Homo sapiens: one gene and its partner. The protein of the gene in region 2 purifies or fractionates together with the protein of the main gene of each other region. This does not show direct contact. Each region holds a gene or a part of one and is shown on either strand. Other genes may lie near its edges.

The links. The genes of interacting proteins can lie anywhere in the genome.
Region 1: the proteins of RNF125 (region 2) and SERPINB12 purify together in Homo sapiens (affinity purification with mass spectrometry, with the first as the bait; one large-scale study listed by BioGRID). This does not show direct contact.

The regions. Positions count from the first base shown.
Region 1 is NC_000018.10:63,545,369-63,549,704, reverse strand, and holds part of SERPINB12 (serpin B12), read right to left. Parts: intron 4,079-4,336; exon of another isoform or gene 3,975-4,078; coding exon of another isoform or gene 3,972-3,974; intron 2,805-3,971; exon of another isoform or gene 2,756-2,804; intron 202-2,755; exon of another isoform or gene 181-201; intron 1-180. UniProt on the Homo sapiens protein: Inhibits trypsin and plasmin, but not thrombin, coagulation factor Xa, or urokinase-type plasminogen activator. May play a role in cell differentiation.
Region 2 is NC_000018.10:32,063,167-32,068,339, reverse strand, and holds part of RNF125 (E3 ubiquitin-protein ligase RNF125), read right to left. Parts: intron 2,439-5,173; coding exon 2,331-2,438; intron 43-2,330; coding exon 1-42. UniProt on the Homo sapiens protein: E3 ubiquitin-protein ligase that mediates ubiquitination and subsequent proteasomal degradation of target proteins, such as RIGI, MAVS/IPS1, IFIH1/MDA5, JAK1 and p53/TP53.

The DNA.
Region 1 (4,336 bases), about 31 Mb from region 2:
TCTCTGGAAGGCACATCTCAAGCTCCAGTTTGTCCTCCAAAGATTCCTACAATCTTTATGGGGGTTGCTTCTCTAGACTGAAAAATTACTCAAAAAATCCTTCTCAAATTGCATTGAAATCTGTGCAAATGTATCCTAAATAGATTGCAAACAATCGTAGCCTAATTGGGAGTGACTTACATGATAGCTCCCATGTACTATCCACAATGTCACCTCCTACTGACCATAGCTATATAGGAAAGAGAAGATAAGCAGTTCTTAGTCAGAAGAAAAAGAAAAAAATTCATTTTATATCAATACAAATACTATCATATTTTTGCCTATAATATTTTCCAAGTAAGGGATTCACGATTTAACTTCTAATGAAGTAGAAGAAGGAATTTTATTCTCAAGGTCTAATTTGTTATACAGATGGCAGAATAATAGTAATGAGGAATTTTGCCCTCACAATACTGAAAAATAAATCGCCTTTATTTTTCCGTGTGCTTTCCAATCTCTCAATCACTGCATTGATGTGTGTGTACGTGCCTGTTTATATGAACATTTTATGTTCACTTGTTTTCACTTCAAATTGCATCTTAAGTGTTTATCCTAATACTGTCTTCATAGATGTTCTTTTAATGGCCTTATAATATCTCATTATACTGACTTATCTAAATGTTTAAACTAACATCATATTGCTAGATACTTAAATTAGCTTCCCAGTTTTTATTAATATGAATAATTCTACGATAAACATTGTCATAAATATAGCTTTTATCTCCCTTCATATTATTTCTTCAGAGTATCTTCTTCAACATGGGATTTCTAGGTCAAATATTATAAAGATTTTTAACTTTCATACTGTCAGCCAAAAGTTACAGATGAAACTGCTATATCATAATCACCTTTTTCAGATATTATTGCCATTCTTAATAACTTAAAAAATAAAAAGAAAATTGTATTATTTTTAAATTTACATGGCATTGATACTTGCTAACATTTGAATGTTTCTCCATGTGTTCTTTTCTCTTTATAAATTCTCACATATTAACTGTCTCTTGTTCATCTTTCAATTATCTATTGAGGTCTTGATCATTTATTTATGGATCATTATGAACTCTTCATATTATATAAACATTTTATGTTTTTCAAACTTGTTCTTTAAAAAAATTTCCCCTGTTTTACCTTCCTTTATTTTCTTTATTGTTATTATAGAATTGTTTTTACTCTTATTTACTGAAAATTGTCAATATTTTCTGGCACTCTCTTCTATCACTTCAAAACCTTGAGGGTAATGTATTTTCAACTTAATTTTAAAACCTCATCTACTTTCAATTTTTTACAAGAAAGAAAATCTTTCCTGTAAGATTTTAACTTACATTGTTAGCTTTGAAGATACATTTTTAAATACTGACTATCTGAAATGTGTAACATTTTTAATTTTTTAAAGGTATTTTTTTCCATTTTTATGGTGTTTGAGGTATCAACAAATGATCTATTTTGCTTGTTTTCTTTCCTTCTGGCTTTGTTACACACGTAAAACCTTCTTCCACTTTCCTCCAACCTCTCCCTCTAAAGAGTTAATTAGTCACCACTGTATACAATAACCATACAACATTTGTTTCCCTTAACTCCTCTATCACACTGTAAGGTAATTATTTTTTATACTGATGTCTTTACTTCCAAATCATAATTGTCTTGAAGGTAGGTTCAGTGTTTTTAATTCATCCTTGTACCCATCCGTGAAGAACACAATGGTAGCACATGAGAACCCTTCATAATATTTATGGATTGATTTGCTGTCATCTGCCCATTTTTCATTGTAGATAATCCTAATGTTTGAAATGTTAGAAGACTATTTAGCATTTCATATTAACTTTATATATCCTGCAGGAAGCTGTAATTAACAGAGATTCTGCATAAGAGAATCAGCTTTTTATTAATTTTTTACTATATAAGAAAAAGTTCACTTACTGCAATATAAAAAAAATTCATTTACTGTATAAGAAAAAGTTCATTTATTACAATTTTCCCTTATAGTAAAAATGTAAAGGTTTAGACAAGATAGACATTCTAACAACCCAAAATATTCTGAGTAAAACTGTTTTTTCCTATATATAGTAGGAAGAAAAATATTTATACTCCAAAAATATTTCATGTCTTATAATTTCTATAATTCCCACAAAGCTACTAACAACTCAAGAATGAAATTCAAACTTTACACAAATAGATGCTATTCTGCTGGAACAAATATTCAAACCAGGTTACAGCAAACTAAATAATAACCAATATCTAAAAACAAAGAAATACTTGTGAACAATACCATCGAAAGTGTTTTCCAACTTATGGTGCAAAAAAAAAAAATCTAACTCACATTGTTTAAAATATAGATATTCTAAATATTATACCATCTTATGTTTCAGAAATAATTCATTAAAAGATAAAATACAATATGTCAAGTATGTGAAAGTTTAAAAAGTTATTCAAACATCTACATTTTAAAAAAATCAATCATATACATCAGGCATCTGACCAGGTGGTTGGGGCTGAGCGAGGTGACAAGCATTGTTAATATCTCCCAGTGATGACTGCCACATCTGCAGAAAATCCAAAACATCATAAAACTAACTCACTTTTTTTAAGTATTTGACTTAATAAAAACAAGTATATCCTTCTATTTCAATCACATCTCCTCTGGGTTTCTATCCTTTAAAATGGTTTTCCAATTCAGTGTTCATTGTTAAAAATTATATCAGGCAATTCGAGCATTTACCTTCTTGCCCTCAGAGTTGCTGCTAACAGCTGGTCAGGTAAGCTTCCCTCCACACCCTGTCGGGAATGGAAATATATCAACTTTGCCCCTCCCTCTGTGGAACTTTTCCAGTGCCATTTTGGAATCCAGAGTAAAATCATCATTGATAGATTAAAGGGAAAAGAAAAGAGTGGCATATATTTTTAAAACAAATGCTATGCTTTTAACTACATTGAATATTTAACTTAATATGCTTATATTTTCTTTGCTCTTTCCAATTTTATAGAGCCCTCAAAGCAATACTTGGCTCACACTTTTCAATTCAAATTTCTATACTAGAAGACCATGAAGCAGAAATGTATTTTACTTCATATACACATTGTCTTAGATGATTTCTTATATTTGAATTTTTGCATTATTCTAAAATCTTTCTAAGTTATTACATAGGATTTGCAAAATGTGCTCTAAGCTACTTCAAAGTTTTTGCTTTCCTGCAGTAGGTGTGTGGTAGGGATGAGAATTATTATTTGATTATTGACACACATATTTTACAACTGAAAACACAAAACTTTTTAAACTTAGCCAAAGCATGTTCTGATGTTACTTTTGGTTCTAGCACTCTACAATCGTGTTATGTTACTGACTGTAAACATGAGGGTCAGTGGATAGGGCAAAAAGTGTGGAGCAACTAGGAGAAAGCTAGGAAGAGTCAAACTCCAGGAACTGACATGTCTTAAGGACAAACGAGGACCCCTCTCTGACCTGGTTCTCCTACTGAGCCCTTTATCTTCCTTTTCTAACTTGTTGTCAGACAACAATATTATCTGAACCATGACCCTACAAATACATTAGGTGTAGAGAAATTCAAAGGAAAACTTTCTAAAATGGAGAGATGGCCTTTATGGAAAATATAAACTACTTATGTAGCTAGTGTATAAATAAAACAAGTTTTATAAGATATTGACCAGTGGAAATTAATGACTAAGCATCCAGAGTTTTTCTGAATTATCAATAGTAAGCATAGAAAAGAAACGTGCTGTTAGTTTTCTTTACTCCTTGATCATTTGAAAATAATTATTTTTTTTTCTAAATTCTTCCACAAAATTCTAAAAACCAGTCTAGTCATTGGTTATGATTTGCAAGAGTTTGGAAAATTTTAACACGTGAATTATTTAATATTTTATGTCATTGATTACTACTTCATGTTGCCCATCATAGCCTTTCCAAAAGGGTATACCATTCATATTCAGAACAGGATGAGTTCTTGCCTGGCTTCCTGGAAGTAGGTGTCACATCTGTTACTGTTGGGGGATAATATTCAAATTTCACTGGGCTTCTGGGTACCTGAGAAGAGTATAAACTTGTTTGAATGTCTTTAATCTAGATTTGCATCTGTTTATCCTCTTAAATAATTCAACAAAGATCTAACTACAGATGACTGTGCCCTACAAGCCTAAAAATTTGGTGTGGTGCGATTGCTCAATGAGCGAAGATGAAATCTGACACTAAATGTAGCTAAACATTAAGGTAGCTTGATAAATCACTAACAAGGGGATGAGAATTTCTTGAGCACTTACTAAATGTCAAGCTGCATTTGGTACT
Region 2 (5,173 bases):
TAAGACTCTTCGGATAAGAGCTTCCTCAATTATATTAAAATCCTACAATAAAGAAAAATAATTAGAAATATTCAGAGTCAATAGTATTTCAGAAACTAGAGGATGAGGGTCAATGCAACACCCTCATTTTGTAGGGAACTAAAGTTACGAGACTTGTCCAAGGTTCCACAAAGCCTGTCATAGAACCCAGGACTTTTGCTTTGGGGCTAATGAATTTTCTACTTCACTTTGTTGTCTATCGATTAACTAGTTACTGTCATAATAAACAGTCTTGATTTGAAATTTGAAGTTTTTATCTGATATAATGAGAAGTTTTTAGTCACCATTACAAATCCTGGTCAGAGTGCTATGTTCCACATAAACCTGTAAAATGGAGCAAAGTTCAGGCTCCCCCACAGGCTTCACCAATGCCAGCAGTACCACTGAATGGCTACTTCTGAAGAAAATGTTAAAAACAAAACTTTCTCCTTGCCTCCTATGTGTCAAAGTGGAATTCAAAATTCTATGTCAGCACATTCTATAAGTAAAACAAAAACCATTAAGAACCCTATCCTCTGCAATCCCTCTCCTCTTCCGCAATAACAAAAGGTGAAATCTCTATTCAAAGTCCATTCTGCAATATAAAAACAAAACAAAAAAACCCCCACAAAATCCAAAGGAAAGTCATAAAGTACAGCAGAACACAAGGTTTGGTCTTGATACTGGCTTGTTCTTAGATAATTCAGTTAACCTTTGAGCTTCAGATATTTCAGTTAAATGAAGATAAAAATACAGTATTCACTTCACGGAAGTTGCTACAAGGAATAAAATGTGATATATACATATAGTGCTTAGCTTAGTATATAGTAGCTCAGGAAGCAAAAAATCAAAACAAAGAACACTACTTCCAGTTCACTTCCCTACCCAAGAATATGGCTGTGAGTGGCTGGAAAGTATTCCTATCAAAGTGGCTTCATCCTGCCTAGCTCTGGATCATGCTTTGTCTGAAAGATCTTGAGAACAGACTGAGCATGATTAGACAGAACAGCCATAGAATCGACCTGGCTTTTAGAACACCTCATAGAGCTAAGGTAAAGAGAAACCTCTTGAGACGGAGTCTCGCTCTGTCACCCAGGCTGGAGTGCAGTGGCGCGATCACGGTTCACTGCAAGCTCCGCCTCCCGAGTTCACACCATTCTCCTGCCTCAGCCTCCAGAGTAGCTGGGACCACAGGCGCCCGCCACCATGCCCAACTAATTTTCTTGTATTTTTAGTAGAGACAGGGTTTCACCGTGTTAGCCAGGATGGTCACGATCTCCTGACCTCATGATCCGCCCATCTCGGCCTCCCAAAGTGCTGGGATTACAGGTGTGAGCCACCACGCCCGGCCAAGAGAAACCTCTTTGTATTACCAGAGAGAACACATAGACCAGAACCAAGTTCTGTTGAGGCCTGTGTGCCATATGGGCCACAAAAGACATGCTTAGAGATATGGAGCTGAGAATTTAAAGCCTCTGTCATGTTCCTTGTTCAGTTCCTCAAGTGGTCCTAACAATTCTACTCCCATCCCATCTCCAATTTGCCTAACATCTGCACCTGAACTGTGCAAAGCACTTTATATACATTATCTCATTTAATCCTAAGAAGAATTTTGGGAGTAGGTGCTTTTAATCTCTTCCCTTAACCAGTGCACAAACTGAGTTTCCGAGGTTAAATACCTTCTGCAAGGTCGCACATATATGACAGAGCTATTGCTTAAAACTAGTTTAGAACCTGAGCTCCTTGTATCCAACCTGGATAATAATAATTGGCAGATAGAAAGCATGGAGAAAATTCTCAAATGACAATCTTCAATCGTTATTAAATTTTATCTTGAAATTGCATTTCATTTTTTTTTTTTTTGAGACAAAGTCTCACTCTGTTGCCCAGGCTGGAGTGGAGTGGTGTGATCTCAGCTCACTGAAACCTCTGCCTCCTGGGTTCAAGCGATTCTCCTGCCTCAGCCTACCGAGTAGCTGGGACTACAGGCGTGTACCACCATGCCTGGCTAATTTTTTTATTTTTAGTATTTTTAATAGAGATAGGATTTCACCATGTTGGCCAGGCTGGTCTTGAACTCCTGACCTCAAGTGATTCGCCCACCTCGGCCTCCCAAAGTGTTGGGATTACAGGCGTGAGCCACTGCACCAGGCCAAAACATTCTATTTTCATGATTTCTTACTTAATGCTAATACTCAACACTATAGCTATATACACATTTTTTCCTCTATAATTTTATTCACTTGGATCGGAAAGGTAAGCTTAACAAGACAGCATGAAAACATAATGTAAAAATAAGAAAATATACTTACTATGAAATCATCATAAAACAAAGTGTGACTAACTTGCAGATGTCTTATTAAACTGCCACTGAAGCTGCTTGGATTCTCATCGGGTATTAAACGGCAAAGTGGACAGAACTGGAAACAAACAAGACCAGGGGTTCAAGAAAGAATTTAAAATCGTTATTAGTGTTAGAATTAAAAACAACGGCTGGGCGCGGTGGCTTACGCCTGTAATCCCAGTACTTTGGGAGGCAGAGGCGGCCGGATCACCAGGTCAAGAGATGGAGACCATCCTGGCCAACATGGTGAAACGCCGTCTCTACTAAAAATACAAAAATTAGCTGGGCGTGGTGGTACGTGCCTATAGTCCCAGCTACTCGGGAGACTGAGGCAGGAGAATTGCTTGAACCCGGAGGCAGAGGTTGCAGTGAGCCAAGATCACACCACTGCCCTCCAGCCTGGCGACAGAGCAAGACTCCGACACACAAAAAAACAAAACAAGACGGGGTGCAGTGGCTCACACCTATAATCCCAACATTTTGGGAGGTTGAGGCGGGTGGATCACGAGGTCAGGAGTTCAAGACCAGCCAGGCCAAGATGGTGAAACCCTGTCTCTACTAAAAATACAAAAATTAGCTGGGCGCAGTGGCAGATGCCTGTAATGCCAGCCACTCAGGAGGCTGAGGCAGGAGAATCACTTTAATCTGGGAGGCGGAGGTTTCAGTGAGCCGAGATCTTGCCATTGCACACCAGCCTGGGCAACAAGAGCAAAACTCTGTCTCAAAAAACAAGACAAAACAAAACAAACAATAACAACAAAAAACAACAACAGGTAACCATTCAAAAATAAACTGTCAACTTTATTCATCCATTAGCCATACCTCAGTATTATGTTATAAAATTGCATAAACATGAAAGCAACATTAAGCAAATAAAATTACATGTCTTCATATGCATTTCTTGCTCATATGCATACATAACAATATAACTATTTGTTTCATATTCATCAATTTATTATTTAAACAATATTACAATTAATACATGTACCATAATTTACTTAATTAGTTTGCCTACCTCTTGGAATACTTGTTTGTATATGGATATTTTACTATCACAAATGAGAATAACTATAGTGTTTACCTTTTAGGGGATTAGTTCCTTAGGAGAAATGACCAGAAATGGCAATTACCAGGTCAACAATTATGAACGTTGGCCAGGAGCGGTGGCTCACTCCTGTAATCCCAGCACTTTGAGAGGAGGCCAAGGCAGGTAGATTACTTGAGGCCCAGAGTTCAAGACCAGCATGGCCAACATGGTGAAACCCTGTCTCTACTAAAAATACAAAAATGAGTCAGACGTGGTGGTGCACACCTGCCTGCTATCCCACCTACTTGGCAGGCTGAGGCAGGAGAATTGCTTGAAAAAAGATTTCACTAGGTTTTGCCTGTACTCATATTTTTCAGTGTGTGTGTGTGTGATATAGTTTGGAAACTTGTCCCCACCCAAATCTCATGTTGAAATGTAATCCCTGGGTGTGGAGACAAAAAAATTAGCCAGGTATGGTGGCAGCACCTGTAATCCCAGCTACTCAGGCAGCCGAGGCACCAGCTCTGTCTCAAAAAAAAAAAAAAAAAAAAAAAGAAAAAGAAAAAGATTTCACCAGATTTTGCCTGTACTCATATTTTTCAGTGTGTGTGTGTGAGATATAGTTTGGAAATTTGTCCCCGCCCAAATCTCATGTTGAAGTGTAATCCCTGGGCGCCGTGGCTCATGCCTGTCATCCCAGCACTTTGGGAGGTGGATCACTTGAGGTAGGAGTTCATGACCAGCCTGGCTAACATGGCAAAACCCATGTCTACTAAAAAGACAAAAAAATTAGCCAGGCGTGGTGGTGCACACCTGTAGTCCTGGCTACTCCAGAGGCTGAGGCAGCAGAATGGCTTGAACCCAGGAGGCAGAGGTTGCAGTAAGCCGAGATCGCACCACTGCACTCCAGCCTGGATGACAGAGTGAGACCCTGTCTCAAAAAGAAAAAAAAAAGGACTTGATGGATTAAAAAAAAAAAAAAGATACAGACCATTCTGTCACTGCAAAGGAATGTCAGTGCGTTGCTATCCTTTATTTCCTTCTCTCTCCCTAACCTCTGCTCTGTTCCCCATATTATTATTATTACTATTTCGAGAAACTTATATAAATAGAACTATACAGTATTTAACCTTTTGAGATTGGCTTTTCCCATTGAGCATGACTTTGAGATCCATCTAAGTTGCTGGGTGTATCCATAGCTCCCTCCTTATTACTGAGTAGTATTTCATGTATGGATGTCCCACAGTCTGCTTATCCATTTATTTTGTAAAGGGCATTTGGGTTGTTTCCAGTTTTTGGTTGTTAAGATAAAGCTCCAAGAAATATTTGTGTACAAATGTTTGCATAAACATTAAGTTTTCATTTCTCTAGGATAAATTTTCAGGAGTGTGATTGCCTGGTTATATGATAAGTATATGTTTAACTTTGTAAAATATTGCCAAACTGTTTTCCAGAGTGGCTGTACTATTTTACATTCCCACCAGCAATGTATGAATTATTCAGTTTTTCTTTATTTTCCCCAACATTTGGTATTGTCCAAATTTTTTTATTTGAGCCATTTTGTTAAACGTGTACTGGTATCTCACCATGGTTTTAATTTGCACTTCTATGATGGCTAATATAAATAACTCTTTTAACATATATTACTTTATCACATTTTAACAAAGGTTCACTTTTTTAAAATTATATTTATTCATGTATTCTTCTTTTTTTTTTTTTTTTTGAAATGGAGTTTTGAGTTTTGCTCTTGTTGCCCAGGCTGGAGTGCAATGGCATGGTCTTGG